2 separate regions of the Homo sapiens genome follow, and region 1 is linked to region 2. Evidence: fine-mapped expression QTL. A gene starts in region 2. The other region holds a variant in brackets. All regions are shown on one strand. Distances are between the middles of the regions.

Evidence for each region. PIP is the estimated chance that this variant, and not a neighbour inherited with it, causes the effect.
Region 1: its variant is fine-mapped to the expression of SGF29 in whole blood (INTERVAL, PIP 0.97).

What each region holds. Positions count from the first base shown.
Region 1 is chr16:28,586,407-28,602,490 of GRCh38, reverse strand. SGF29 (SAGA complex associated factor 29) reads right to left here. Exons shown (of 10, transcript NM_138414.3): 5 at 13,327-13,391; 6 at 12,266-12,395; 7 at 12,049-12,195; 8 at 11,825-11,860; 9 at 11,556-11,718; 10 at 10,701-10,901. The coding sequence ends at 10,785. It overlaps SULT1A2 (sulfotransferase family 1A member 2), which reads left to right and starts at 5,441. Exons shown (of 8, transcript NM_001054.4): 1 at 5,441-5,494; 2 at 6,557-6,708; 3 at 6,816-6,941; 4 at 7,027-7,124; 5 at 8,923-9,049; 6 at 9,145-9,239; 7 at 10,048-10,228; 8 at 10,351-10,548. The coding sequence starts at 6,561. The coding sequence ends at 10,463. RefSeq lists enhancers at 1,159-1,673, 2,507-3,040, 3,041-3,575, 5,209-5,503. The variant C/T (reference allele first, on the strand shown) is at 6,616.
Region 2 is chr16:28,546,905-28,562,988 of GRCh38, reverse strand. SGF29 (SAGA complex associated factor 29) reads right to left here and starts at 9,069. Exons shown (of 10, transcript NM_138414.3): 1 at 8,892-9,069. RefSeq lists a silencer at 8,641-8,760 and an enhancer at 8,781-9,100.

The sequences.
Region 1 (16,084 bases), 40 kb before region 2:
GTCTCCTGGTGGTAGAGGGGCTTGTGTCAACCTGTGGCCGGGTGGGGATGCTCCTTCCCAGCTGGTAGGCTGCCCCCAGGCTCCATGCCCTGCCCTGGCCTGGACACTCACGCTTTGCCTTCTTCATCAATGTCATCTACCTCATACCTGTGGACAAAAGGAGGAAAATGCAGGATGCAGCCAGGGGCACAGTCCCTGTAGGGGAGTGTGGAGGACAGGGGCAGGGCGAGGACCCGGTGCTCCCTGCACAGCCGGCCCCGCCCACAGCACGCTCTGTGGAGTTTTTCTCCTGCTGTGCAGATGAGAAGCAGAGTGGCAGCCCAGGCAGGTGCAGTGACCAGAGAGCAGCCCTGGGGCTGTTGGAGGAGCCCCTGGGAGCCTCCATCTCCCGAGTGAGCCCAGCAGGACTGTGACCCGTTCGGCCAGGTGTCCTACAGGGGCTGCTGGGCTCAGCTACAGATGGGCGAGACCGCAGCATAGTGGGCGCCCAGCGGGAAGAACCAGGGAGGGACAAAGTGAGTTTGCAGGTGCTGGAGAGGCTCTCTTCTTGATGTCGGTGCTGAACCAGAAGTGTGTTTAAGGAGAATTTCCTAAAATTCAAAGAGTTCCACGGGAGTCGCGGCTAGGCCGGGGCGCTTCTTCAGCATCTACCTGCTCTAAGGCCTGAACCCCCGTCATCAGGGCCACGTTTATATGGGGTTCACTGTCAGCCCTGCTTGTCAGGTCCAGCAGCACAATGGGGACCACACAAAAGGCAGGGCCCAGGCCTGGCGCGGTGGCTCAAGCCTGTAAACCCAACACATTGGGAGGCCAAAGCGGTTGGATCACTTGAGGTCAGGAGTTCGAGACCAGCCTGACCAACATGGTGAAACCCCGTCTGTAATAGAAATACAAAAATTAGTCGGGCATGGTGGCACGTGCCTGTAATTACAGCTACTCGAAAGGCTGAGGCGGGAGAATTGCTTGAAAGATGGGGCAGGGGGCAGCGGCAGAGGTTGCAGTGAGCCAAATCGGGCCATTGCACTCCTGGTGAGACCGGAAGGGTCTCTGTGCCAGGAGGAAGGCTTCCTGGAGGAGGCGGACCCCGCTGGGCACAAGCCTGATGAGAGGGAGGGGCATGCCTGTGACATGGGTGGGGAGTCCAGGGTGGGGACGGGACTGTCACAGAGGAGGAGCATGACGGGGAGACAGTGCCCTGGGAATCTTGGCGGTGGAACTCCGGGGAGGAGCTGGCTGGGGCGGAGGTGATGATCCAGGATGCGGGCCAGCGTAGGGGTCTTGGTGGGCATGCTGGGGTCGGATGGAGCGCAGGAGGGAGAGGAGGGGGGACAGGTGGGTACCTGGGCTGGAGGCGCGGCCTGAGGTGGGCAGGTTCAGGGGGCGTGACTTCATTTAGGGGCAGGGCCTGGGGCTAGGCTGAAGCCGGCAGTGAGGACCCCGCTCTCGGGTGGAATTGGAGGGGACCCGCGGTTGGGCGCGGCAGGGCTCACAGGGACACCCCCGTTCTCCTCCCCAGGGAGAAAGTGCTCGTCGTGCACGGCTTCCCGCCCGCCGTGGCAACCCTTCGGGTAAGGAAGGAGACCAGGCGGCGGCAGGCGGGCAAGGGCTTGGGGTCCGCCCCCCTGCCTGGAGCCGCCCTAACTCCTCCGTATCCTGCCGCTGTTGGAGTGGGCCTGGAACCCCCTCCATAGGCGCGCCTCCTACTCCCGCTGCACCCCGACCTCCGCCGGGACCTCTATGCGCCGCGCCGCACGGGCGATGGCCTTCGGGCCTCCCCGGCCCCAGGGCACCGCGCAGGTCCCTTTGCTGGCACCAAGCCCGAGCCTGAGCCGGACCCGGGGCCCAAGAGGCCTGTGCGCCCTGCGAGCCCTTGAGCTCCAGGGGAGGTCCGCCCCAGGCAGGGCGGCTCATCCCCCAGACCACTTCGGATCCAGCTGTTTGTTGAGGAGCCAGGAAACGCCCTGACACTTTTGCGGCCCTGTCCCCGTCTCTAAGATGGGGATGATAGTATTTCTGGCCATTCCTGAGCACAGCAGGACCTGCCTTTTCCCTTTGACTGGAAGGTTCTTCTCTACACCTATCTTGATAACCTGCCACCTCCACAGGGAGGTCTTCTCTATCTCCCGATTTAAAATTGCAGCTCTGAGAAGCCGGGCATGGTGGCATATGCCTGTAGTCCCAGCTACGGGGGGAGGCTGAGGTGGGAGGATCGCTTGGTCCCAGGAGTTGGAGGCTGCAGTGAGCTCTGATCGCTCCACTGCACTATAGCCTGGGCAAAAGAGCAAGAAACTGTCTCTAAAAATATAAAATAAAATTGCACCTCTTGTGTACTTCCCCGTCTGCTTCTTTACCTGAATACTTACTATCTCACCGGCTAGGTGCTTTATGACTCTCGTTAGTCTCTCCCACCCCAACCTTTGCACTACATTGCCCGAGGGCAGCTCTTGTCACTGCTGTAGAACAAAGTCCTGCACAGAGACGATAGCCAAGAAATAGTTAATAAAATAATGGAAAACGGGTGCCTTCTACTGAGCACCCGCTAATAGTGAGTGAGTAGAGGACTTGCCCTGGGGACATTCAGTGACCTGCTGGGTGTTGCTGAGCTGTGAGGAAGTTCAGGTCTGGCTGCAGTGGTGAGGCTGTGACTCAATCAATCACTGCTGATGCTCCCAGGACCTGCACCAGCTTAGTCCCAGGGGCAAGGATTTTAAACCCCCACCTCCATTTCCTCATCTGTAAGATGCAAATAACAGTCACCTCTGCCTCACGGGATGGAGCTGTGTAATGCCCGGAACAGTGCCTGCTGCATAGAGGGGTTGCTGCCAGCTGCCTCTCCCTCCTTGTCTCTTACCTGCCTGCTGCCTGGGACAGGATGAAGCGGGGCCCTTGTGTTGCCCCAACCCTGGCTGTTGGCTAAGAGCCCACGTGATCTGCCTGTGAGAGGAGTTCCTTCCGGAAGAACCAGGGCAGCTTCTGCCCCTAGAGGGCCAATGCCCTAGCTGAGTGCAGTCCCCCGGCCCCAGCCTGGTCCAGCTTTGGGAAGAGGGTGCCCAGTTGTGCAATCCAGGCCGGGGCAGCCGTGTCCTGATCTTGGTATTCAGGGCTGAGCCTGGAGGGGGCTTGTGATGCCTGACTCTGTCTCTCTCTCTGGCCCCATGCCTTGGTAGCTGTGAGGCGTCACTGCTTTGGGTGACCTGATCTGGCTGTGATGGATGAGCACGGGGGAAATAGTGGAAGACTCGGAATTAGAAGACGTGAGTGGGCTTTGGCCCCAGCCTCCCTACCCCACTCCCTGTCCTGGGCTGCCTGTGACCAACCTTGTTTCTGCAGGCACACTGGATAGCCCTGCTGGAGCTCAGTGTCCCTAATCCCCTCCAGATACTGGTGGCCTAGGGGAGGTCATCAAAGACCGGTGGGACATCGACCTCAGCCCGTTTCCACGCTTTTTTTTGTTTTGTTTTGTTTTTTTGAGACCGAGTTTCACTCTTGTTGCCCAGGCTGGAGTGCAATGGCGTGATCTTGGCTCACCGCAACCTCCGCCTCCCGGGTTCAAGCGATTCTCCTGCCTCAGCCTCCCAAGTAGCTGGGATTACAGGCGTGTGCCACCAGGCTTGACTAATTTTCTATTTTTAGTAGAGACAAGGTTTCTCCATGTTGGTCAGGCTGGTCTCAAACTCCCGACTTCAGGTGGTCTGCCTGCCTCGGCCTCCCAAAGTGCTGGGATTACAGGAGTGAGCCACCGTGCCAGGCCTTCTCCAGGCTCTTGGCACCTTAGCCAGAAACAATTTAAGGACAAGTGCAAAAGTCATGAACGTAGGCAGATTTCCTGCAGAGTAAAGGGACTCACTGAAGAAGAGGAACGTGGGGGTCCTCAAGAGAGTGTCTCATGCCCTACAAGGTGTGGGGCTGACCTTTATGGGCTTCTTCAACTAAAGAGGGGTATATTCATGAAGATTCCAGGAAAAGGTAAAGATTTCTCAAGACCGTGGTGCCACAATTTACACCCAAATACAGGTGTTCCTGGAGCCGTCTTGGCACTGGTGGGTGTACGGTTTCATATGTTACTGATTGTACAGTGAGATCCTAGGTGAAACCTACATCAAATACAGCGCCATGTTGCTTCTGGTTGGTCGCAGCCAGCTTGGTCCTCATCCTATTTTTCAGGGACTTATTGGCCCTTGGCACATGCAGCTATTTCAAGTTTCCTTCTTCTGGTCATGTGAAACTGCTGCCTGGGATTTTCTGTTGTCTTGCTAGCACTCTATTAATCTCACATTCTCGCCTCTTTTCTGTGCCACCCCCTGCTGGTCCGGCTGGTTTTCACTAGAGTGCAATACAAAGTCTCAGTCAAGAGGGCCTCCTGAAGGTTGCTGAGGGCAGGGGTGGAGCTAGTAGCCGGAGGACCTGCCAGTCATGGGGATTCCTCAGGGGCACAGAGGAGGGAGGAGGGGCCTGTGGCCCTAGCAGGGGAGCAGCCTCTCCTCTGCCTGGAAATCCCATGCCTCAGTTTTCCCCGCTTGCCTCTGAGCTCACGCAACCCTGGGAAGGCTTGGGAGACTCACCTTTACTCAGATGGTTGTTTACCTGTCTCGTGCCCAGCTTGACCCTGGACTTTAAATAGTGAGGACAAAGAACGAGGAGGGTGGGGGGATGCACTCCTTCCACGGGGCCCTGTGGCTTCCAAGCCTCAACCTCCTCTGGCCTCTGTCTGTGGAGCCTCCTTCAAACCCATGGAAAGAAAAGTACCTGCCAGGGGCTGTGGTTCTTCTAGGATCTTCTATCGATGTTCTGTGAGGTCCCCAGGGAGCCATGAAGCTGGGGCTGGCTCCCAGGGCAATGGGACTGCAGTGTCCTTGTTCTTTCTTGTTCTATGGATCCATGCTCTGCTCCACCCCTGCCCCTTCACTCTGCCCACACGCATCACTCCAGACTGGCCTTGTGGTCAGAGCCTGGAGTGCATGGGCTGCTGGAGGCCTGTGGGTTGCACTGGGCCAGGACCCCTGGCACCTTCAAGACTGGCCTGGAGCCAGCAGGTAGGTGACCTTTCCAGGGCCTGCCTATCCCATCTTTCTCCTCCAATCCCTCCCCTCTCTTGCCTGGGTCAATTAGAGAAAGCTTGTCTTTTGGAGTTCAGGGGCAGGTCAGGAGCCCAGTGACAGCTCAAAAAAAAAAACCCACAAAAACAAACCCACCATTGGGCCCTTTCCCCTTTCATTCTTCTGTTTTCTACACACCAAACCCAGTCGTGGCTTTGGAGATCACTTTAAGCTTGTCTCCAGCTGGCAAACTAAGGAGGGTAATAGAGAAGCTCCCCCACCCCCAACCCTACCCCTTCCTTCCGGAAGCAAATCTAAGTCCAGCCCCGGCTCCAGATCCCTCCCACACTGACCTAAGAAACCCTCAGCACAGACAACACCCCTGCATTCCCCACACAACACCCACACTCAGCCACTGCGGGCGAGGAGGGCACAAGGCCAGGTTCCCAAGAGCTCAGGTGAGTGACACACCGGAATGGCCCAGGACGCCCTCACCCTGCTCAGCTTGTGGCTCCAACATTCCAGAAGCCGAGGCCTCTGCTATCCCTGCCCTCTCCCCATGGATATCCCATTTCAGACAACCCCGGCCGGCCTGAATCCCCCTCCCTTCCTTTTTTTTTTTTCCGGGGAGGCCAGGTCTTGCTGTCACCGAGGCTGGAGTGCTGTGGGATCCTGGCCACTGCAGCCTTGAATTCCTGGGCTCAAGTGATTCTCCTGCCTCAGTAGCTAGGACTACAGACCCTCACCATCCTGCCTGGATAGTTTTAAAAAATATTTTTAAAAGATTTTTAGAGATGGGGTCTTCCAATGCTGCCCAGATTGGTCTCCAAATTCTGGCCTCAGCCTCCCTAGGGTCTGGGATTACAGGTGGGAGCCACCCTGCCCAGGATCCTCCTTTTGCTGAGTCATCACAGTTTTGCTCATTCCCACATCAGGCTCTGGCCCCCAATACCAGCTCAGTTGCTCAATGGGCTGTTTGTCCTGGAGCCCAGATGGACTGTGGCCGGGCAAGTGGATCACAGGCCTGGCCAGCCTAGGAGTTGCCACATGTGAGGGGCCGAGGGGCTCAAGGAGGGGAACATCGGGGAGAGGAGCCTACTGGGTGGAGGCTGGGGGTCCCAGCAGGAAATGGTGAGACAAAGGGCGCTGGCTGGCAGGAAGACAGCACAGGAAGGTCCTAGAGGTTCCTCAGTGCAGCTGGACTCTCCTGGAGACCTTCACACACCCTGACATCTGGGCCCCGCGCCACGAGGGTGCTTTCACTGGTCTGCACCATGGCCCAGGCCCTGGGATTTTGAACAGCTCCGCAGGTGAATGAAAGGTGAGGCCAGGCTGGGGAACCACCACATTAGAGCCCGACCTGGTTTTCAGCCCCAGCCCCGCCACTGACTGGCCTTGTGAGTGCGGGCAAGTCACTCAGCCTCCCTAGGCCTCAGTGACTTCCCTGAAAGCAAGAATTCCACTTTCTTGCTGTTGTGATGGTGGTAAGGGAACGGGCCTGGCTCTGGCCCCTGACGCAGGAACATGGAGCTGATCCAGGACATCTCTCGCCCGCCACTGGAGTACGTGAAGGGGGTCC[C/T]GCTCATCAAGTACTTTGCAGAGGCACTGGGGCCCCTGCAGAGCTTCCAGGCCCGGCCTGATGACCTGCTCATCAGCACCTACCCCAAGTCCGGTAGGTGAGGAGGGCCACCCACCCTCTCCCAGGTGGCAGTCCCCACCTTGGCCAGCGAGGTCATGCTCACCTCAGCCTGCTCACCTCCCATCTCCCTCCCTCTCCAGGCACCACCTGGGTGAGCCAGATTCTGGACATGATCTACCAGGGCGGTGACCTGGAAAAGTGTCACCGAGCTCCCATCTTCATGCGGGTGCCCTTCCTTGAGTTCAAAGTCCCAGGGATTCCCTCAGGTGTGTGTGTCCTGGGTGCAAGGGGAGTGGAGGAAGACAGGGCTGGGGCTTCAGCTCACCAGACCTTCCCTGACCCACTGCTCAGGGATGGAGACTCTGAAAAACACACCAGCCCCACGACTCCTGAAGACACACCTGCCCCTGGCTCTGCTCCCCCAGACTCTGTTGGATCAGAAGGTCAAGGTGAGACTGGGCACAGTGGTTCACACCCGCAATCTCAGTACTTTGGGAGGCTGAGGTGGGAAGATCCCTTGAAGCCAGAAGTTCCAGATAAGTCTCTTCCAAAAAAAAAACTTAGCTGTGCATAGTGGTGTGTGCCTGTAATACCAGCTACTCAGGAGGCTGAGGTGGGAGGATCATCTGAGCCTAGGAGTTTAAGGCTACAGTGAGCTATGATCACACCAGTGCACTCCAGGCTGGGTGACAGAGAAACACTGTCTCAAAAAACGATGAATAGAAAGAGTGTCCCACCAGTGCGGTGGCTCACACCTGTAATTCCAGCACTTGAAGAGGCTGAGGCAGGTGGATCACCTGAGACTAGGAGTTTGAGATCAGCCTGGCCAACATGGCAAAACCCCATCTCTACTAAAAATACAAAAAAATTAGCCGGGCATGGTGGCAGGCATCTGTAATCCCAGCTACTTGGGAGGCTGAAGCAGGAGAATTGCTTGAAGCTGGGAGGCAGAGGTTGTAGTCAGCCGAGACCTCACCATTGCACTGCAGCCTGGGAAACAAGAGCAAAACTCTGTCTCAAAAAAAAAAAAAAAAAAAAAAAAAAAGCGGCAGGTGGCAGGGGGCTGGGCCTGTTGTGGCTCACGCCTGTAATACCAGCACTTTCGGAGGTCGAGGTGGGCAGATCACCCAAGGTTAGGAGTTTGAGATCAGCCTGGCCAACATGGAGAAACCCCGTCTCTACTAAAAATACAAAAATTAGCCAGGCGTTGGGGCAGGCGCCAGTAATCCCAGCTACTCGGGAGGCTGAGGCAGGAGAATAGCTTGCACCTGGGAGGCGGTGGTTGCAGTGAGCCGAGATTGTGCCACTGCACTCCAGCCTGGGAGACACAACGAGACATTGTTTCAAACAAAACAAATAAATATTTTAAAAGGTTTGCCACCTGGGTGGCTCACCGCTGTAATGCCAGCATTTTGGGAGGCCAAGATGGGTGGACCGCTTGAGCTCAGGAGTTCCAGACCAGCCCAGGAAACATGGGGAGACTCCATCTCTATAAAAGATGCAAATAATCAGCAGGGCATGGTGGCATAGCGCTATAGTCCCAGCTACTCAAAAGTCTAAGGTTGGAGGATTGCTTGAGCCTGGGAGGTCAACGTTGCAGTGAGCTATTCTCACTCCAGTGCACTCCAACCTGGGCAACAGGAAAAAAGAAAGCCCAAGGTCTTTTTTCTCTTTTCTCTTTTTTTTGAGACCTAGAGTCCCCCCCCCCAAAAAAAAAAAAAAACCACAACAAAAAGAAAAAAGCAAAGGTCCAGGTGTGGGGCATGTGAATCCAGGGAAGGAGGCCCCGGCTCAGCCCAGCTTTGGTCCTGTTCTTCTGGGAGAGTCGCCTCACTTCCTCCAGACTTGTCTCATCTTCCACGGGGGGGACTGTCTGCCTTTTGCTCTGATGACCAAAAACATGAGACTCTTCCGGGTAGACCTAAGAAAGGTAGAGGGTGGGTCCTCACAGGCCCACAAAATTTGGTGGTGGTGGGAACATGCCTGGTGGAGCATGCCTTGCTCCAGATCGGGGTGTGACGCATTGATGCAGATTATATTACTATAGAATATGATGGTCTCAGGGACCAGGCAGGACTTTGGCTTTTGAGCAGGGTTCAGATCCTGACTTGGCCCTACCTGTGCCGTGAGATCTCAAACAAGTCAGCCTCTAAGCCTCAGCTTCCTCCTTTGCCAAACCAAGAGATGAGCTGGCCTGGGGCAGGCTGTGTGGTGATGGTGCTGGGGTTGAGTCTTCTGCCCCTGCAGGTGGTCTATGTTGCCCGCAACGCAAAGGATGTGGCGGTTTCCTACTACCACTTCTACCACATGGCCAAAGTGTACCCTCACCCTGGGACCTGGGAAAGCTTCCTGGAGAAGTTCATGGCTGGAGAAGGTGGGCTTGATGGGAGGAAGGAAGGTGTGGAGCTAAGGGGTGGTGGCTACAACGCACAGCAACCCTGTGTCGGCACTCCCTGCCCGCTTCTCCAGTGTCCTATGGGTCCTGGTACCAGCACGTGCAAGAGTGGTGGGAGCTGAGCCGCACCCACCCTGTTCTCTACCTCTTCTATGAAGACATGAAGGAGGTGAGACCGCCTTTGATGCTTCCCTCCACGTGACACCTGGGGGCAGGCACTTCACAGGGACCTGCCAAGGCCACCCAGCCACCCTCCCTGGGCGGCCCCTCCAGCAGGCCCGGATTCCCCATCTTGACTCCCTGGCCCAGGCCCCACTGCAGCCCCATGTGGCAGCAGGCTGGGCACAGCTCTCATCTCCTGTGCCTGAGTCAGCTGCACGGGTGGCCATGGATCAGCTACTTTTTTTTTTGAGACAAAGTCTTGCTCTGTTGTCCAGGATGGCATGCAGTGGTGTGATCTCAGCTCAGTGTAACCCCCCCTCCCAGGTTCAAGTGATTCTCCTGCCTCAGCCTCCTGAGTAGCTGAGATTACAGATGCACACTACCATGCCTGGCTAATTTTTGTGTTGTGCCATGTTGGCCAGGTTGGTCTCCATCTCCTGAGCTCAGGTGATCCGCCTGCCTCAGCCTCCCAAAGTCTTGGGAATTACACGCCTGAACCACGGCCCCTTGCCACAGATCAGCTATCTATTCCAATTGCTTCTCCCTGCCAATGGTTATGCCACCCAGGGCCACAGGCACGGAAGAAGACCATCCCAGTCCTTACCCATAGGAGCCAAGCCCAGCTCATGATGGGATCACAGGGCAGACAGCAATTCATTTTGCCCCAGGGACTGGGGTCCCAGGGGTCGAGGAGCTGGCTCTATGGGTTTTGAAGTGGAAGTGGCCAGTTCCCCTCTGAGGTTAGAGAAGTGGACCCCTTTTATTTTCCTGAATCAGCAATCCAAGCCTCCACTGAGGAGCCCTCTGCTGCTCAGAACCCCAAAAGGGAGATTCAAAAGATCCTGGAGTTTGTGGGGCGCTCCCTGCCAGAGGAGACTGTGGACCTCATGGTTGAGCACACGTCGTTCAAGGAGATGAAGAAGAACCCTATGACCAACTACACCACCGTCCGCCGGGAGTTCATGGACCACAGCATCTCCCCCTTCATGAGGAAAGGTAGGTGCCGGCCAGCACGGGGGTTTGGAGCAGGTGGGAGCAGCAGCTGGAGCCTCCCCATAGGCACTCGGGGCCTCCCCTGGGATGAGACTCCAGCTTTGCTCCCTGCCTTCCTCCCCCAGGCATGGCTGGGGACTGGAAGACCACCTTCACCGTGGCGCAGAATGAGCGCTTCGATGCGGACTATGCGAAGAAGATGGCAGGCTGCAGCCTCAGCTTCCGCTCTGAGCTGTGAGAGGGGTTCCTGGAGTCACTGCAGAGGGAGTGTGCGAATCAAGCCTGACCAAGAGGCTCCAGAATAAAGTATGATTTGTGTTCAATGCAGAGTCTCTATTCCAAGCCAAGAGAAACCCTGAGCTGAAAGAGTGATCGCCCACTGGGGCCAAATACGGCCACCTCCCCGCTCCAGCTCCTCAACTTGCCCTGTTTGGAGAGGGGAGAGGGTCTGGAGAAGTAAAACCCAGGAGACGAGTAGAGGGGGAATGTGTTTAATCCCAGCACGTCCTCTGCTGTCCTGCCCTGTGTCGTTGGGGGATGGCGAGTCTGCCAGGCGGCATCACTTTTTCTTGGGTTCCTTACAAGCCACCACGTATCTCTGAGCCACATTGAGGGGAGGGGAATAGCCATCTGCATAGGAGGTGTCTTCAAACAGGACCGAGTAGTCATCCTGGGGCTGTGGGGCAGGCAGACAGGAGGGGCTGCTCAGAGACCCCCAGGCCAGGACAGGCACCCCCTTCCCCCAGCCTAGACCACAGGAGGCTCTGGGCCGTGGACTCTCAGCCACTCCTAACATCCTTCACTCTGGGGTCAAGAAGTCTTGGCCCAGTCCCTGCTGCTACAGAGCTCTTTTCTCAGTGGCTGGAGACCCAAGGCAGGGAATAGGCAGGGAGGAGTAGGGGTGCTGACTCCCTTCCTAGTGGGGTCATAGCTGGAGGGTCTGCTGCCTTTCAAGGACTCTTTGTTGAGAGGACTGAGGGCAACCCAGAGGGTGGCAGGCAGGGATCCTGGCCTCAGGTGGCTTGTGTCCCATGTCACCAAGAGCACAAGGCGGTAGGAGCCCAGGGCTCAGGGCAGGAGCTTCCCATCTCGGAGCTGGTTCTCCTGGGGCTGGAAGCCACTGACTCGGGGCTTGCCAAGGCTGCCAGGGCTGGCAAAGGGATGGTGGCCTTTGGGGCTGGAGTGGAAGAGGGAGGGCAGCTGGTGGGTCCTGTCAGCTTGGAGCCTGTGAGATGAGGACAAAGGGAAGGAGTGGGGAGAGGACCCCTCGTCTGTCTGATCAGCCTGTTCCTGACATCACCCATGGCCTCTCCCCTGGAGGCTGCTTTACCCGCTGTGGGGGCGCATGGATCAGGGCGCGGTAGAAGCAGGTAGTCTGGGGATACAGGGCCAGCACGAGCTGCTCCTTCTGGAACAAGGCCTCAGGGTCCGTCTCCGGGTTGGCCTTCCACTGGGGCAGCGGGATGACACGGCGCCGGCTCAGGGTGTGTCTCCTGGGGGAAGAGGGGCTTATATCAACCTGTGGCCGGGTGGGGATGCTCCTTCTCAGCTGTTAGGCTGCCCCCAGGCTCCATGCCCTGCCCTGGCCTGGACACTCACTCTTTGCCTTCTTCATCGATGTCATCTACCTCATACCTGCAGACAAAAGGAGGAAAAGGCTGGATGCAGCCAGGGGCGCAGTACCTGTTGGGGAGTGAGGATGGGGGAGGACCTGGTGCTCCCTGCACAACCAGCCTCTGGGGAGCACCCTCTGCAGAGCTTTTCTCCCGTAGCCCAGGCAAGTTCGGTGACCAGAGAGCAGCCCCAGGGTTGGTGTCACTCACTTGTTGGTGGCATGGCTGTAACTGACCACCTCGGCCAGGATCCACTGCTCGTCCCCATCCACGGCCTTCACCCGGGCAGCCACCTTGTCTCCAGGTCTGGCCACGTAGTCTCCTGAGGCAGGGATGGCCCCACAGAGGGGTGGGGGCCTGTGAGTGGAACAAAGGGTCAGTCCCAGCCCCTGGGCACCAGCCCCTCCCTCGCAGCTGCTGCCCTCACTTGTCACCAGGCTTCCCGATCCACAGGGGCAGGGTCATGGCCGACTGCTGCAGCAGGGTCATCAGCACCCCTCTGCGCATGGTCTTCCGGGGTGGCTCCGAGTCATTGTAGAGACCGGCAATCTTGGCCGCTGTGGGAAGGAAGGGAGGCCTGAGGCCCCAGGGATAGGTGCCGGCCTTGACCCCCGAGCATGCTGCACTGAGCTGTTGAAGGAGCACCTGGGAGCCCCCAGTTCCCGAGTGAGCCCGAGGGCCCAGCAGGACTGTGACCCCATCGGCCATGTGTCAGCACCTATAGGGGCTGCTGGGTTTAACTACAGTTGGGTGAGATGGCAGCACAGCGGGGATCCAGGGGGAGGAACCAGAAGAAAGAAAGCGGGTTCCAAGGTGCTGTTCAGGCTGTGTTTGCTGATCTGAATGCTGGTTACAGAAGTGTGTTCAGTTAGTGACTATTTCATTGAACTCTGCACTTATGTGTACTTTTCTTCTATTAATATACATTGTAATTCAACAGAAAGTTAAAAAAACCAAAAAAAAAATTAAATGTGCACCTTCAACCTCCTCAGGCACAGCTGGACACCCCACTTGACTTCACACAGAACCAGCATGGCTGTGTGGGGACACTGACATGCCAAGATTCTGCCCACCATGGGATTGTTGGGAGGGCAGACAGGTAGGAGAGCCTAATGCAGGCTGAGGGGGTCTGGAAGGCTGGCTTTACGACACACAGCGTGTGGCTCTGCAGAAACCAGCCAGGGCAACAGATGGGCATGGGCCATGGCAGAGGAGGGGGCGACTGGCCCAGGCCCCAGAAGGGGCAGGAGATGAGGGGCCAGGGCGGGATGATCTCTGGCTGCTGAGGGAGAACTGGGAAACCCCTGCCTCTGGGCACTGGGAATGACCTCCTGTCCCTTCTCAGTGGTAGAGCCAGTCTGCCAGAGCCTCCATGGGAGGATGCCAGCAGGTGGTGGCCACAGGCCCCCACAGGAGGGTGACTGCTGCCCGCAGGGCCTCTCCTCTTGTCCTAGCAAAGGACCTCCCAGCATGTTCTCTCCCACTCACCAATCCGCCTCTCTTCCAACAGAGACTTGATTTCCGCGATCTTGTCCAGAGCTTTCCGAAGGATGCTGAGGGCGGGGAGAAGGGAGAAAGAGGGTTTGGTTAACGTACATAGCATAGACTTCTCTTCCATTTTTTCTGTTTTGGGTCAAGCTACATTGCCCAGGCTGGTCCCGGACTCCAGAGGTTCTCACAGTAGCCTCCTGCGCAGGTGGAATGACAGGTGTGTGCAGGTTCCTGTTCTGGTCAAGGTGGGCTGGGTTATTCAGACCAACCTCATGGTGAAACTAGAAATCTGCCCGGGTGTGGTGGTTCACGCCTGTAATCCCAGCACTTTGGGAGGCCGAGGAGTGTGGATCACCTGAGGTCAGGAGTTCAAGACCAGCCTGACCAATATGGTGAAACCCCGTCTGTATTAAAAATACAAAACTTAGCCAGGTGTGGTGGCGAGCGTCTTTAACTGTAATCCCACCTACTTGGGAGGCTGAGGCAAGAGAATCGCTTGAACCTGGGAGGCAGAGGTTGCAGTGAACCGAGATCGCGTCATTGCACTCCAACCTGGGCAAAAAGAACGAAACTCCATTTCAAAAAAAAAAAGAAAACTGGAAATCTTCAGTATGTGTCTTTTAGTCTTAAGAACATAAAAAACAAGGTGGTAGAAAGCAGCATGCCAAAAACTAAGAGAACACAGGATCCCAGAGAGGAAAGGACACAGGCAAACTGCCTTCGGCAAACCCTGCAGAAAGGCTGCAGGAACCTCCTGAAATGAGGAGAGGGGGCCTCAGGTCTGCCCGAGGGTCACACAAAAGGAGGGGAGACTCTGGGGAGAGGTGCTGGCCCAGAGCAGAACTGGGTGGAAGGACCTCATCCTTTCTGAAAGGCTGAACCCAAAGACAGACCCCTGCATGGCCTTGAAGCCCCAGGAAGCCTCTGTGAAGTTAGTTTATGGGGATTCCAGGGTGGCAGGAACCCAAAGAACCCAGCAGAAGCAAACACAGAACTTGGCTGGAGTGAGGCTCCTTCATCCTAAAGCTCAGGGAATCTTCCCAAAGAGTATTTCCACAGCAGGGATGGGTGTGGTGGCTCACGCCTGTAATCTCAGCACTTTAGGAGGCTGAGGCAGGAGGATCACTTGAGGTCAGGAGATCGACACCAGCCTGGCCAACATAGAGAAACTCCTTCTCTACTAAAAATACAAAAATTAGCCCGGCGTGGTGGCGGGCGTCTATAATCCCAGCTACTTGGGAGGCTGAGGCAAGAGAATCGCTTGAACCTTGGGGGCAGAGCTTGCAGTGAGCCGAGATTGTGTCACTGCACTCCAGCCTGGGTGACAGAGCGAAACTCCATTTCAAAAAAAATACGTATTTCCACAGTAGTCAGCAGCACAAACTCCACTTTGGGTCATTTTATTTTCCTCTGATACCATGGCAAACCCCAGTCCATTCCTCTGGCAAGCCTTTCTGAAATGACCCGGAGTTCTAAAGACCTTTGTGCGGCAGGAAGGAGATGCACAGGAACTGGGTGTGATGCAGCATCTCGGGAGGTGTCCGGGGGTGCCCCAGGGCATGTGACTCATGGACCTCACCAGGCCAGGGCCAGAAGATGGAGGTAGGCCAAGGGCAGCCAAACCAACGCAGGGACAAGGAACAGCTTGCCTGCTGCGTACAATGCAGGGATGGCCCAGCCAGTGCCACCTCAGGCTGTGAGCACCGGGACCCCAGAAAGCAGAGAAGGAGAAAGAGCCACGGGGCCAAAGGGAACTCTGAGAGTCTCATCACTGTTGCCAGGCCTGTGTGGAGGATACAGTTTTATACAGCCTGTCCTAAACTGTCTTCTGTGACATGTTACTGAAGTGGCTTTCAAACCTTGGTGGGCATCAGAATCTCCTGGGGGAAGTTTAAAAAATCTCAATTGTTTCACGCACAAATCATAAATGGATGCTAAAACTAGTGTGTTTGATATGAACAGGATAGTTACAGTCTCAAAAGTATCTCCCAAGACACTTATTAATTATGCAATGGAGGCCAGGTGCAGAGGCTCACACCTGTAATCCCAGCACTTTGGGAGGCCAAGGTGGGTGGATCGCTTGAGCTGAGGAGTTCAAGACCAGCCTGGGCAACATGGCAAAACCCCTCTCTACAAAAAATACAAAAATTAGGTGGAGTGGTGGCAGGTGCCTATTGTCCCAGCTACTCAGGAGGCTGAGGCAGGAGGATCACTTGAGGCCAGGAGTTTGAGGCTGAAGTGAGCCATGATTACGCCACTCCACTCCAGCCTGGATGACAGACTGAGACCCTGTCTTAATCGATCAATCACACAATGGAAAATAGCAGTAATCTGATACAAGAGAAACGTGGAAAATACCACTTTAACCAATGGCACAGACAGCATCCTGTGCCGTCTAATATGACCCACCAGAGACACCTCTTCTGTGCCAAAAGTGTAAAGCATGAATCCTACTAGTGAGGAAATGTCAGATAGTTAATACCAATGTTGGAGCTCCACCCCAAATAAACAGAGCCTCTGGGCACAGTCAGACTTCAGAACCAGTGTGTTCTCAAAGTAGAGGAATGTAATGTTCAAGTTCCTGAATCTCCTGCAGAGATTCAAGGAAACAGTGTTTCCAGATCATTTTTTTATTTTAGTTTTTTTTTTTTTTTTGAGGCAGAGCCTTGCTCTGTTGCCCAGGCTGGAGTGCAGTGGCACGATCTTAGCTCACTGCAACCTCCGCCTCCTGCCTCAGCCTCCCAAGTAGCGTGCG
Region 2 (16,084 bases):
CTATGTGTGGAAGAGTCTTCTACTCAGACTTCAAGCCCCTTAAAAGTAGAAGAACTAAGTCTTTTTTTTTTTTTTTTTTTTTTTTGAGACAGGGTCTCACTCTGTCACCCAAGCTGGAGTGCAGTGGCCCAATCTCGGCTCCCTGTAGCCTGCACCTCCCAGGCTCAAGTGATCCTCCCACCTCAGCCTCCCAAGTAGCTGAGACTATAGGCATGTACCATCACACCCAGCTAATTTTTAAATATTTTTGTAGAGATGAGGTCTTGCCTTGTTGCCCAGGATGATCTCAAACTCCTGGGCGCAGGCAATCCTCCCGCCTCAGCCTCCTTAAAGTGCTGGGATGACAGGCATGAGTCACCATGAGCGGCCAAGAACTGTCTTAATGGATTGTCTTTGCATCTTGGTACCCAAAATAAAGCCTGAAATACAGGAGGGCTTGGATCCCCATTTGTCAGACCTTACTTGGGAAAACACTGAAGAGGCGAGCAGCATGCCCAGCATCAATACAAGTATAATTTCCCACAAAGAAATGAAGTACGCCACCTGCCATACAGCCATCAGGGAAAGGAACTGGACCTTCATGTTCCAGGAATAGTCCAAGGAGGGGGAAGGGAGAGAACAACTGTAAAGTTCTCATAAAGCCTCACACTCACCCTGGATGAATTATTTAACCTTTCTGGGTCTCAATAAAATTAAAACAAGAGCACCTACTTGATGATCAACTATCTAAGAAAGGTCCTAGGCAGTGGCCGGCCCAGAGCATGCACTTAGTGAACGCTAGTGGCCCTTCTCATCTGGAGGCCAGGGGTCTGCTGTTACACTGAGCAAAAGAGCCAATCGCACAAGCAAAAGAAATGCTGACGCTTGCCAAACCTAGGAATAACCCCACGATGATGGCCTGGCCAAAGACCACACCATTTAAGGGCTCTCGTTTGAGCTTTGCCTACTGGGTAGTGGCTTGTCTGAGAGAACAAGCTCTTCCTATGATTTTACATCAAAGTGCTGCTATCTCTGGATCTGGTCAGTCATAAGTCTAAACTTCCCCAGGAAACATGTTCTAAGTAGAAGCAAAGGTTTCTGTGACCTTCTGAGAACAAATGCCAAGCCTGCTGGTGCAAAGCAAGTGGGAATGAGGCCCTGGGGTTGGAACCATAATGAATTGGAAGGCCAGATGAGGGGACACTGCACTTCCAGGCCAAGTGGCTGGTTTTATCAGAGTCCGAGGGTGCCAGCTAATCTTATCACAATTCTATCATGTAAACAAAACTGTCCCAAACCCTGAGAGGCTCAGCAATTCCAGCAAGGTTTCAAGCATTCTTAGGAATGCTGAGGTAACGCCCAGTACCCTAAACTTTTTGACTCCTAGCATGCTCGTGTTCCCACTGACTTAGAAGGCCACATCTTTTCTTTCTTTCTTTCCCCTGCACCTTTTGTGTTTTTTTGTTTTTTGTTTTTAGAGACGGAGTCTTGCTCTGTTGCCCAGGCTGGAGTGCAGTGGTGCGATCTTGGCTCACTGCAATCTCCACCTCCAAGTTTCAAGCAATTCTCCTGCATCAGCCTCCCAGGTAGCTGGGATTGCAGGTGCCAGCTACCGCACCCAGCTAATTTTTGTATTTTTAGTAGAGACAGGGTTTAACCATGTTGGCCAGGCTGGTCTCCAACTCTTGACCTCAGGTGATCTGCCTGCCTCAGCCTCCCAAAAAGTACTGGGATTACAGGCGTGAGCCACTGTGCCTGTCCAGCTAATTTTTAAACTTTTTGTAGAGATGGGGTCTCACTATGTTGCCCAGGCTGGTCTTTAACTCCTGGGCTCAGGCGATCCTCCCGACTCAGCCTCCCAAATTGTTGGGATTATAGGTGTGAGCCACCACACCTGGCCTGACGAAGTTTTAATAACTGCTTTAAATTTTTAAAAAAATTTATTTTAACTAATTATTTTGATTCTCTTTTAGAATTCTTGTCAGTTGATACCAACATCTGGGTCCTCTTGGGGTTGATCTTCGTTGATTGCCTTTTTTTTTTTTTTTTGAGACAGAGTCTTGCTCTGTCACCCAGGCTGGAGTGCAGTGGTGCGATCTCAGCTCACTGCAAGCTCCGCCTCCCAGGTTCACGCCATTCTCCTGCCTCAGCCTCCCAAGTAGCTGGGACTACAGGCACCCGCCACCACGCCCAGCTAATTTTTTGTATTTTTAGCAGAGACGGGGTTTCACCATGTTAGCCAGGATGGTCTCGATCTGCTGACCTCGTGATCCGCCTGCCTTGGCCTCCCAAAGTGCTGGGATTACCGGCGTGAGCCACTGCGCCGGGCCCGTTCATTGCCTTTTTTTGTAAACACAGATCATATTTTCCTGTTTTGTAAAAATATATTTTAAAATTTTCGTTCTTTTTTTTTTTTTTCTTGAGACAGAGTCTCGCTCTGTTGCCCAGGCTGGAGTGCAATGGTGTAACCTCGGCTCACTGCAACCTCTTCCTCCCAGGTTGAAGCAATTCTCCTGCCTCAGCTTCCTGAGTAGCTGGGATTACAGGTGTGCGCCACCACGTCCAGCTAATTTTAGTATTTTTAGTAGAGATGGGGTTTCACCATGTTGGTCAGGCTGGTCTCGAACTCCTGACCTCGTGATCCACCCACCTCAGCCTCCCAAAGTGCTGGGATTACAGGCGTGAGCCACTGTGCCGGGCCCATTCATTGCCTTTTTTTGTGAACACAGATCATATTTTCCTGTTTTGTAAAAATATATTTTAAAATTTTCGTGGTTTTTTTTTTTGAGTCAGAGTCTTGCTCTGTTGCCCAGGCTGGAGTGGTGGCACGATCTCAGCTCAACCTCCACTTCCTGGGTTCAAACAATTCTTGTGCCTTAGCCTCCTGAGCCTCCTGTGTACCACCACGCCTAGCTAATTTTTTTGTACTTTTAGTAGAGAAGGGGTTCTGCTATGTTGGCCAGGCTGGTCTCAAACTCCTGTCCTCAAGTGATCTGCCTGCCTCAGCCTCCCAAAGTGCTGTGCTGGGTTTACAGGCATAAGACACCATGCCCAGGCCATTTCTTGTGTCTAAGAATTTTGGATTATATCCTGGACATTGTAGATGATGTGTTGTAGACTCTGGATTCTGTTATGTTCTTGAGAGTTTGGTGTTTTGTTTCTGTTAACATGCAGTTAATCACAGCTGAACTCAAACTCCAAATCTAGCTTCCCTGAGGCAAGCATCAGCTGAAATCTGTACTGATCTTTTAAACTTGGCTAAGTTGCTTGGAATATGCCCCATGTTTGTCTAGTTCAGAGGTTTAGGCAGACTTTTTAAAATAACAGCTTAATGGGCCGGGTGCGGTGGCTCACACCTGTAATCCCAGCACTTTTGGAGGCCAAGGTGGGCAGATCACTTGAGGCCAGGAATTCGAGACCAGCCTGGCCAACACTGTCTCTACTAAAAAAGTACAAAGATTAGCTGGGTGTGGTGGCACACACCTGTAATCCCAGCTACTTGAGAAGCTGAGGCACAAGAATCGCTTGAATCCGGGAGGCGGAGGTTAAAGTGAGCCAAAATCGCACCACTGCACTCCAGTCTGGGTGACAGAGTGAGATTCCGTCTCAAAACAACAACAACAACAAAAACAGCTTAATGAAGATAATTCGCATGCCATACAATTCTCTATCTCTCTATCTACTTATTTGAGACAGGGTCTCACTCTCATTGCCCAGGCTGGAGTGAAGTGGTGTAATTACAGCTCACTGCAGCCTTGACTTCTTTGGCTCAGTCAATCCTCCTGCCCCAGCCTCCCAAGTGGCTGGGACTACAGGTGTGCACCACCACGCCCAGCTAATTTTATAATTTTCTGTTGAGATGAGGTCTCATCATATTGCTCAGGCTGGTCTCAAACTACTGGGCTCAAGCAATCTTCCTGCTTCAGCCTCCCAAAATGTGCTGGGATTAAAAATGTGAGCCACCGCACCCACCCCAATTCACTTTTTTAAAGTGTGCAATTCAGTGTTATGTTAGTCACAAGGTTGTGCAAATATCACCACTATCTAATTTTAGAACATTTTCACCAACTCTCCTTAAAACCTTATACTCATTAGCAGTCATTCCCCACCCCCTTCTCCTCTCAGTCACTGGCAGCCATTATTCTAATTCATATTTGTAGATTTGCCTATTCTAGACATTTCATATAAATAGAATTGTACTGTGACCTTATGTGACTTGCTTCTTTCACTTAGCATGTTTCCAAAGGTCATCAATGTCACAGCATGTATCAGTAACTTCATTCCTTTTTATGGTTAAATAACATTCCATTCTATGGATAGATGTCGTTTTTAATCCACTCATCTGTTGAAGAATTTGTGAAGAATTTGGAATCCCTTCTCTGGGGCTATCTTCTTTCCATCATGGGCTTTTTAATGCCTCATGACAAGGCATTTAACAAAACCAATAAACAGGCGGGTCGCAGTGGCTCATGCCTGTAATCCCAACACCTTGGGAGGCCAAGTACAGAGGATTGCTTGAGCCCAGGAGTTTGAGACCAGACTTGTCAACATAGCGAGGCTCTATCTCTACCAAAAATAAAAAGTACCCAGGTGTGCAGCCAGGCGTGGTGGCTCACACCTGTAATCCCAGCACTTTGGAAGGCCAAGGCGGGTGGATCATGAGGTCAAGAGGTCAAGACCAGCCTGGCCAACATGGTGAAACCCCATCTCTACTAAAAATACAAAAAAAAAAAAAAATTAGCTGGGCATGGTGGTGCATGCCTGTAGTCCCAGCTACTTGGGAGGCTGAGGCAGGAGAATCACTTGAACCCGGGAGGTGGAGGTCGCAGTGAGTCGAGACTGCACCACTGCACTCCAGCCTGGCGACACAGCGAGACTCCGTTTCAAAAAAAAAAAAAAGTACCCAGGTGTGGTGGTGGACTCCTGTAGTCCCAGCTTTCAGGAGGCTGAGGCAGGAGGATCTCTTGAGGCCTGGAGTTCAAGACCAGCCTGGGAAACACAGCAAGACCCCGTCTCTGAAAAAAAAAAAAAAAAAAAAAAAAAACAGAGAAAGAAAAACAGAAAATACTGGTGACATAATTTAGGCTTCTGGATAGAGTCCCATCTGAAACTGATTTACTCCAGGACTCTTCAGCTACAGTCTGTGAGGAAAAAACAAAACTTTCTCCTCTGCTGTCACAATATAGGATAATCAACACATAAGATTTCCGTGGCCAAATGTGTGGAGATTTCTCCCCAACACCAATCAATCCATTGAGTCTGCAGTGGATACACGCTGGATGTCCTCTAATTCAGTTTATTTCCAACACTATCCACCCAGACAGAGTGTCAAACCCCACAGGTTGAGGGCTCAGTCCCACGAGCATGTCCCCCCAATTCTCAATGCCAGTCACAAGCCCCCAGTTGCTTTATTTGTGCTTCTGACCAACTGACTATAAATCAGGGTTTCCATGACTCCCTCCTTGGGTTCCATTAATTTGCAGGAGCAGCTCTCAGCACTCAGGGAAACACTTAGGTTTACTGGCTTATTATAAAGGATGTCACAATGGATACAGATGAAGGAAGAGGTGCACAGGGCAAAGCATGTGGGAAGGAGCGAAGAGCTTCCATACCCACCCTGGGCACGCCACCCTCCAGGAAGCTCCAAACTGGGATACAAACCAGATATATATTTTACAATATCACAGAGTCAACAAACACCCCTTTCAGCTTAGGCTAGTCAGAGTAGCTTTTTGTTATCTGCAACTGAGTAGCTTGACTAATAAGAACTTTCATTAAGCACGGTCTGAAGAGATAGCCAATTCTGAGGGACAAAGGCTGCAGGGTAGAAGCATATGTTAACCACTAATACCCAGCCTAAAATTGCTGGCCCTTTTACTATAATAGCATAAAAGGCCTCAAATAAACAAATCCAAATATCCTACACTTAAGCCACTCTAAGATTAATCCCACAGGGCTTAAAACAGTAAGAGCTTTGTTCTGGGTCAAAGGGAAAGAGGAACCTAATACCCCACACTCACATCCCACACTCTCAACCCAGTCACTAGCAATGAGAATCTGCAAACTGGGTGCAGTGGCTCATGACCGTAATCCCAGCATTTTGGGAGGCCGAAATGGGAGGATCACTTGAAGTCAGGAGTTCAGGACCATCCTGGGCAACACACGGAGGCCCTGTCTCTACAAAAACAAAATAAAATAATTAGCTGGGCAGGGTGGTGCACATGTGTAGTCCTAGCTACTCAGGAGGCTATGGCAGGAGGATCACTTGAGCCCAGGAATTTGGGAATAATGAGCTATAATGGCACCACTAGGCTCCAGCCTGGGTGACAGAGTAAGACCTTGTTTCTAAAAAAAACATAAGTAGGTTGGGCGCAATGGCTCACACCTGTAATCCCAGCACTTTGGGAGGCCAAGGCCGGCAGATCAACTAAGATCAGGAGTTCAAGACCAGCCTGGCCAACATGGTGAAACCCTGTCTCTACTAAAAATACAAAATTAATCGGGTGTGGTGGCACATGCCTGTAATCACAGCTACTTGGAAGGCTGAGGCAGGAGAATCGCTTGAAACCGGAAGGCGGAGGTTGCAGTGAGCCATGATTGCGCCATTGCAATCCAGCCTGGGCAACAAAGAGTGAAACTCCGTCTCAAAACAAACAAACAAACAAACAAAAAATTAGCCAGGCATGGTGGTGCATGCTTGTAATCCCAGCTACTCAGGAGGCTGAGGCAGGAGAATCACTTGAACCCGGGAGGCAGAGGTTGCAGTGAGTTGACATTGCACCACTATACTCCGGCCTGGGTGACAGAGCGAGACTCCATCTCAAAAATAAATAAATAAATAAATAGAATCTATATTCATCAATTGGTTAAAGAGACATTAAGAAGACAATTTTTTTCCTTCATGCCTCTGTATTGCAACTTATGCCAGTGTTTCTCATTTAAACCTTACAGCAATCCTATAAAATAGATAACAGAATAGTAAGTATAGTGAAGAAACTGAAATTCAGATAGGTTATGCTAGGTAACTCAGGAAAAATAGGTAGTTGAGCTGGGGCTGCAAGGCTGCAAGTTCTAAAACCTATGCTCTTCCTCTGAATTCCAAGTTGTGTCACGACTTCAGCATATTCAATAGTAAAAGAGATCACAAAAGTGGAAGCTGCCAACCCACCATTAGGCTATTATGACAACACTCAAAGTATCACCAGTAAAATGATGATTGAGGCAACTGAAAAACAAAGCTAGGGAAATGTGATGGTTAACTTTATGTGTCAAACTGATTGGGCTAGGGGATTCCCAGATAGCTGGTGAAACACTTTAGAGTGTGTCTGTGAGTTTCCTGAGGGTTTGCTTTCCTGGGCTTCCAGCTTGCAGATGGCAAATCTCGGGACTTCTCAGCCTCTATAATAGTGTCACCCAATCCATCACAATAAATCTCTTTTAAAATAGCTATACAGTTGACCCTCAAACAATGCAGGTTTTAATTGTGCAGGTCCACTTATATGTGGATTTTCTTCCACCTCTAGAACTCTTTTTTGAGACAGGGTCTTGCTCTGTCACCCAGGCTAGAGTGCAGTGGCACGATCTTGGCTCACTGCAGCATCCACCTCCTGGGTTTAAGTGATTATTGTGCCTCAGCCTCCCAAGTAGCTGGGATTACAGGCGTGCACCACCACGCCCGGCTAATTTTTTAATTTTTTTTTTTTTTTTTAGAAGAGACTGGATTTCACCACGTTGCTCGGGCTGGTCTCAAACCCCTGAGCTCAGGCAGTCTGCCCACCTCGGCCTCCCAAAGTGCTAGGATTACACGCATGAGCCACCGCGCCTGGCCAGTATTTACATTTAAAATGTGAAACTGGGATTGCGGTGGCTCATGCCTGTAATTCCAGCATTTGGGGAGGCTTTGGTTAGGAGGACTGCTTAAGCCCAAGAGTTTGAGGCTGCAGTGAGCTGTAATAACACCACTGTTCTCCAGTCTGAGCAACAGAGAACGTGTCTCTAATAAAAACAAAAATGTGAGATGATGCCTAGGTTAGAATCAGCAGAGGAGAAGCCAGAGAGAGCAGAGGCAAAGGAAGAGAACGTTCAGCAAGCCAAATGAAAACAGTGTTTCAAGGAGGGGCAGTGATCCACAGCATCAAATGCTGAACAGGACTGAGACCTAACTTAACAATGCATTTGGCCACCTAGAGATCACTGGTGGCTTTGACAAGAAGCCTTTTTAGTGGAGTGGTGGAGACCAAAGCCTGACTAGAGGCTCAAGGGTTCAAGACTTGGAGGAGAAAAGGCATTAGTGAGGGTAGACTAAGGCCTTTGGCTGCAAACCGGAGCCGAGGAGGAGGTAACTGGAGGATAGCGAGGGTGAAGGAGGCTGTTTTGTTGTTCTTAAGACGGGCATTTTTTGGCCGGGCGCGGGGGCTCACGCCTATACTCCCCACACTTTGGGAGGCCGAGGCGGGAGGTTGAGCCTCCTGGGCAAACGACGAGCTGTTAGTGTATCTTGTTAAGAACTATATATATATACAAAATTTTTGTGCAAATCATAAAATAAGTGCTGGAGTTCGGGGCCCATCCTCTGTCCGCATCTTCGTGACCCGGGTCCGAGTACCCCACCTGGAAGCTGCGTCCGTGCCGAGCCCAGCGTGTCGCTGTTTCCCACCCTCGCCGGGGATGGAAGCACGCAAGCGCAGACCTCGAGCGGCCGGGCGCAGGGCCCGCCCTCCCCGAGCCCCGGCCCCGCCCTCCTCTCCCGCCCCCACCCCCACGAGCCCCGCCCCCCTCCCGCCCAGAGCGCGTGCGCACCGCCCCTAGAGCGCCGCCTCAGGGAGGTCGGGAGCCGCGGCGCGGAGGGAGGACTCAGCCCTTCGCTCCCGCGTTTCGCCGGAGGTCTCAGGCCACGGCCCGTCGCCACCTACCGAGTCCGGGACAAAACAAGCTCGTCGGGCTGGAAACTGCGACGAGGGGAGCAGGCGCGTTCCTCGAACCCTTTTTCGGAGTCTGCGGATGATCACAGACCTGCGTTCGAAGATTGGCGGCACGTCGAGAACCGCACACGCTTTTTTTTCCTTTTATGAGCGTAGTCGCGCGCGGAGGACCTTGCACGCATGCGTAGTCGTTCCTCTGTGACGTGACCCGCTGCCCCGTGGGAAATGTAGTTTTCACTTGGCACACCGCTCCGGCTCTTGGCGGAACCCTAATTTAACCAACCAAAGTGCTTGTGCGTTTTCAGCGTTTTCTCCCATTTCCCCAGACTCTATTTAAAACAAAATGCAATAAATAAATAAATAAATAAAACTTGAAAGCGAACAGATTGCTGCTTGCTGGAGGTGGGTGGGCGCAGGGGTAATATGAAAACTGTACTTTCTGCTCAATTTTGTTGTGAACCTAAAAATGCCCTAAAAAATAAAAGTCTGTTGTTAAAAAATTAATTAAAAACAGGCCGGGCGCGGTGGCTCACGCCTGTAATCCCAACACTGGGACGCTAAGGCGGGCGGATCACCTGAGTTCAGGAGTTTGAAACCAACCCGGCCAACATGGTGAAACCCCGTCTCTACTAAAAAATACAAAAATCAGCCGGGCGTGGTGGCGGGTGCCTGTAATCCCAGGTACTGGGGAGGCTGAGGCTGGAGAATCGCTTGAATTCAGGAGGCGGAGGTTGTAGTGACTGGAGATTGTACCATTGCACTCCAGCCTGGGTGACAAGAGGGAAACTCCATCTCAAAAAAACAAACAAACAAAAAACAAGCAGATCTTTAGACCCAGAAATCGCACTTCTAGGGAATCTTCTCAGGAAAGTACTAAGGATATGGACGTGCAATGGACATGTAGCCTCAATGGTATTTTATCGAAAGCCATCCTGGTATCTTAAAGTTTCTTACATAACCTACAAATGTCTGTAATTATTTGTTGATTATTTGATAAACTTGCAAGTCCTATGAGATTGGGATCATCTTGTGTTCACCTGTGTATTCCTAGTACCTAGCACAGTGCCTGGCCATCACATGTTTCTTTTTTTTTCTCTTTGAGACAGGGTCTCGCTCTGTTGTCCAGGTTGGAGTGCAGTGGTGCCATCAGGGCTCCTGAGTAGCTAGGACTACAAGCACACACCAGCACATTCTGCTGATTTTTAAATTTTTTTTGGTAGAGATGGGGGTCTTGCTATGTTGCATAGGCTGGTCTTGAGTTCCTGGGCTCAAGCGATCCTCCTGCCTCAGCCTCCCAAAGTGCTGGGATTACAGGCATGAGCCACCAACCTCAGCCCCGTCAGTATTTTTCTGTTTATTAGAGAATCTCAGGCGTTAGCACTGAAACTATGTTAACCCCAAAATTAATGCATCATTTTCTTCCATCACACTTGCAGTTCTTTCTGTGGGCGTCAGGTCAGTGAATGACATGCCCATCCACCCAGCTGCAGTTCTACTTACTGCCTTTTATGAAGGTTATGCTTTGAGGGATTTTGCAAATTTTGCATTTGTAAAGGTCTCAGGGGCTCTTTTTCCTGATTGTTAAATATCAGCCCTAGCTAGGCCAGGCGTGGTGACTCACGCCTGTAATCCCAGCACTTTGGGAGGCCGAGGTGGGCAGATCACGAGGTCAGGAGTTTGAGACCAGCCTAGCCAATATGATGAAACCATGTCTCTACTAAAAATACAAAAATTAGCTGGGCATGGTGGCACGCACCTGTAGTCCCAGCTACTCTGGAGGCTGAAGCAGGAAAGAACCACTTGAACCCAGGAGGCGGAGGTTGCAGTGAGCCAAGATTGCGCCACTGCACTCCAGTCTGGGCAACAGAGCAAGACTCTGTCTCAAAAAATAAATAAATAAAATAAATTTAAAAAATCAACCCTAGTCACTGATCAGGAGAGATGTAGAGCTTACAGTTGTTTTTTAAATTATTTTGGTCTCTGCCCTGTTTTAAAATTTTATCGTTAATTTCTGATTTTTCTACAATAAACATGTATTTATTAACTTTTTAAAAAGTGTTTTAGAGTGTTGTCCACATGTAAGGAATTGCTCTGTCTTCTCCACATCCACATTTCTCAAAAGAATCATCTATACTCAGTTTTCATGTCCCACCTCCTACTTAGTACAATGTCCTGAGCCAGCACCTGGGGGTTATCCCTGACATCACCCTTTCCCTCCCCTCCCTCATTCAATCCACCACGTGTCTGCAATATAAAAACACATTTGTTAGGCACTTGCTATGCACCGGGCACTGTTCAAAATCCTTTACACATATTCATTCATATAACACAATCCACCTACTTTTCACCTCCACCACATCCACCCTAGGCCAAAGTAGGGACATCTTCCCTAAACAACTGCAAAGGTTCTCTGTTTTTTAATCGCTGGTGCTAAGGTTGAGTTACTTATTTCTACTTAATGACACACTTCGTCATTGGGCTCTGCACGGCCTCTCTATTTATTTGTTATTTTAAAAATTTTTTTGAGACAGAGTCTCACTCTGTCACTCAGGCTGGAGTGCAGACGCGCGCCACGACGCCCAGCTAATTTTTTATATTTTTAGTAGAGATGGGGTTTCACCATGTTGGCCAGGCTGGTCTCAAACTCCTGACCTCAGGTGATCCACTAACCTCAGCCTCCCAAATTTCCTGGGATTACAGGCGTGAGCCAGCGCGCCAGGCCTCAGCCCTCTGCTTTCAACACCTGTCATTGTGGGCACACTTTACCTATGACTTACAGCAACCATGCAATATTTCGAAGTGGGCAGCAACATTTCAGTTATGATGGACCTGTAAGTTGCCTCCAACTACTACTGGCTACCACAAACAATGCCACAGTGAACAACCTCATGCTTATTCCCCTGCGGTCTATATGAAGATTTCTCTGAGATGTATGCCCACTAGTGAGACTGAGCAATGCCATCTTAAATGATCTCCCCTCATCTATTCGGGCCAGAGTGGCACATGCCTACAATCCCACTGCTTTGGGAGGCTGAGGCTAGAGGATCACTTGAGGCCAAGAGTTCAAGGCAACAGTGAGCTATGATTGTGCCACTGCACTCTAGCCTGGAAAACATAGCAAGATCCTGTCTCTACAAAAAAAATCTTTTTAATTAGCCAGGCGTGGTGGCATGCACCTGTAGTCCCAGCTACTACTGAAATTGAGGCAGGAGGACCGCTTGAGCCCAGGAATTCAAGACCAGCCTGGGTAACAGAGTGAGATCTCATCTCTACAAAAAATTTAAAAATTAGCCGGGCGCGGTGGCTCACACCTGTAATCCCAGCACTTTGGGAGGCCGAGGTGGGTGGATCACAAGGTCAGGAGATCAAGACCATCCTGGCTAACACGGTGAAACCCTGTCTGTACTAAAAATACAAAAAGTTAGCCAGGCGTGGTGGCGGGCGCCTGTAGTCCCAGCTACTTGGGAGGCTGAGACAGGAGAATGGCATGAACCCAGGAGGTGGAGCTTGCAGTGAGCCGAGATCGTGCCACTGCACTCCAGCCTGGGTGACAGAGCGAGACTCTGTCTCAAAAAAAAAAAAAAAAATTTAAAAATCAGTCCAGGCGGGGTGGCTCACACCTGTAATCCCAGCACTTTGGGAGGCCAAGGCGGGCGGATCACGAGGTCAGGAGATCGAGACCATCCTGGCTAACACGGTGAAACCCCGTCTCTACTAAAAATACAAAAAATTAGCTAGGCGTGGTGGCAGGTGCCTGTAGTCCCAGCTACTCGGGAGGCTGAGACAGGAGAATGGCATGAACCCGGGAGGTGGAGCTTGCAGTGAGCCGAGATCGTGCCACTGCACTCCAGCCTGGGTGACAGAGTGAGACTCTGTCTCAAAAAAAAGTAAAAATCAGGCCAGGCGGAGTGGCTCACACCTGTAATCCCAACACTTCGGGAGGCCAAGGCGGGTGGATCCCCTGAGGTCAGGAGTTTGAGATCAGCCTGGCCAACATGGTGAAACCCTGTCTCTACTAAAAATACAAAAATTAGCTGGGCGTGGTGGCGCATGCCTGTAATCCCAGCTACTTGGTGAGGCTGAGGCAGGAGAATCGCTTGAATCCAAGAGGCGGAGGTTGCAGTGAGCTGAGATGGTGCCACTGCACTCCAGCCTCATAAAAAATAAAAATAAAAAAAATTAGCCGAGTAGTCCCAGCTACTAGGGAGGCTGAGGCAGGAGCATCGCTTGAACCCGAGAGGCAGAGGTTGCAGTGAGCTGAGATTGTGCCACTGCACTCCAGCCTGGGTGACAGAGCAAGACTCTGTCTCAAAGAAAAAAAAAATCAGCCGGGTATGGTGGGGGACAGGGAGGTGGGGCATGAGGATCACTTGAGCCCAGGAGGTTGAGGCTGCAGTGAGCTGTGAATACGCCGCTGCACTGCGCTCCAACCTGGACAACAGAGTGAGACCATTTCTCAGAACACACACACACACGCGCGCACACACACAGCTCTCTCAGGATCTGACCTCCCATGGCAAAGAGGAAATTGTAACTATTCACAATTTAATGGTTTTTGTCCCCGCTGCAGGCACACGTAGCCATATCATGACCAGAAGGTGGCATAGTGTGCCTGCAATCCAAAAGGAAAAAGATGAAATACATTAACTCTTAAATGTTGCCTTTTTTTCTGATATACATTGTGCAAAAGTCCAACACTACAGAGATCTGGAGTCCATAAAGGAGAAAGTAAAAATTATCCAGAACCCCAGTCTAGGATATAACCACTTTGGAGAGTTTGGTTTACATCTCATTGCCCCCCCTACTTTTATTTTCAATAATGAAAATAATTTTTCTGGCCAGGTGCGGTGGCTCACGCCTGTAATCCCAGCACTTTGGGAGGCCGAGGTGGGGGGATCACCTGAGGTCGGGAGTTTGAGACCAGCCTGGCCAACATAGTGAAACTCGTCTCTACTAAAAATACAAAAAAAAATAGCCAGGCGTGGTGGCCCGCACCTGTAATCTCAGCTGCTCAGTACTTGGGAGGCTGAGGCAGGAGAATCGCTTGAACCCAGGAGGTGGAGGCGGTGAGCCAAGATCATGCCGCTGCACTCCAGCCTGGGGGACAGAGTGAGACTCCGTCTCAAAAAAAAAAGAAAAAGAAAAAGAAAATAATTTTTCTTGCAAAAATGGGAGCACAGATGCACCGTTGCGGAGGGCGACAATGATGTCTGGGCTCGCTTCATTCTACATGGGTTGGGGCATGGGGTAGGGGGGCACGGCCCCTTGGCCCGAGGTGGGAGGGTAGGGGACGGTGTCTGTGGCCCAGGGGTGGGTGGGGTGGGACAACGCATTGTTTTCAGGGCACTCCGTCTACACCCGTTACACTCCGCAGCAAAGCCGTCCCAGGTCTCCACCCACCACCCCACCCATCAGGACACCAGGAAGACGCACTTGACCTGCAAGAGACTGTTTGAATACATCTTCCCTAAGAGGATGGACTGATGCTGCAGGCTGGACAAACCGCCAAGCTGAGCTCCAAGGTCCCCCTGACTGAGCCCTGGGATCCTCTTGACCTTCAGCAGAACTCCACCTTTGAAGTCCGGTACCCACCAGGCGGCTGGATGAGCGTGCCTCCATGCAGGGGCGCTCAGGCAGAAAGTCAGCCAGAGCAGATGAAACCTGAATTGTTATCCCAACCAAAAATTACAGCACGATGTTGCCCTCCCTTGTTTTTTTGACATACACCTGGGTGTTAAAGACCCCTCCATGTTGACCCCGTGGGGCATGGGCCAGACAGCCCAGTGGAGGAGACGACCAGGACCAGCCCTGGTGAACGTGAAAACCCAGAAGTGACGGCATTGGACATCAGATATCAGTGACCCCAGCTGGAAACAGATTTGATATTTGAGAATTTTCACTGGAGCTTAAATATGATAAGTTTAGGACGGTAGACATTTTTATGGGTTTTTTTGTAAGTATGATCTTGACTAATCAAACTGTCTATAAAAGAAATTGAATGGGCTGAATCAATGGCTAATATGGATACCTCAGGGGTTTTTGTGTGGTTTTTTTGTTTTGTTTTGTTTTGTTTTGACAGGGTCTTGCTTTGTCACCCAGGCTGGAGTGCAGTAGCACAATCTTGGCTCGCTGCAACCTCTGCCTCCCCGGCTCAAGCGATCCTCCCTCCTCAGCCTCCCAAGTAACTGGGACTATGGGTACACACCACCACACACAGCTAATTTTTGCTTTTTGTGTGTGGTGGGTTTTTTTTTTCTTCTTTTTTTTTTTTTCAGACAGCTCCTTGCTCTGTCGCCCAGGCTGCAGTGCAATGGCACGATCTCGGCTCACTGCAACCTCCACCTCCTGGGGTTCAAGTGATTCTCCTTCCTCAGCCTCTTGAGTAGCTGGGATTACAGGTGCCACCATGCTGGGCTAGTTTTTGTATTTTTAGTAGAGACAGGGGTTTCACCATGTTGCCCAGGCTGGTCTGGAACTCCTGACCTCAAGTGATCTGCCTGCCTAAGCCTCCCAAAGTGTGGGGATTACAGGCATGAGCCACCGCTCCCGGTCTTAATTTTTGTATTTTTTTGTATAGACGAGGTCTCGCCATGTGGCCCAGGCTGGTCTCAAACTCCTGGGCTCAACCAATGTGCCCTCCTCAGCCTCCCAAATTGCTGGGATTACAGCGTGAGCCACCACGCCTGGCCTCGTTTTTTTTTAACAGTGCTAAGAGGTAAGGAGGACTCCCTAGGAGCAGTTCGCAGTGGCAGGGAGGCATATTTTATTACTGACATTGTTGAGAATTGATAGTGATAATAAAAGGCAGAATGATTTGGATCAGTTTAATTATTAAGTTCTTTATAGACAGCCTGGATCAGGGTAGGGGACTGCTCCCACTGCCCTGTCCCAAAATGCTCCCTTAAAATTATTTCCAGATATTTAAGAGCTTTATGGCATGACCCAATTGCTATAAAAATTTTAACTTGAAGGAAAATCTATACTATAAAGTAATCGTTTCTTTAAAGATACATTTTAAGCAAGAGGGTTTGGAAAAATCTTTATGTCTACACCTGGTAAGCACAAGCCATGTATATTCCGTTTTTCTTTCTTTCTTTCTTTCTTTGTTTTTGTAAAAAAAATTTGTTTTGAGCCAGGGTCTCACTCTGTTGCTCAGGCTGGAGTGCAGGGGCGCAATCACCGCT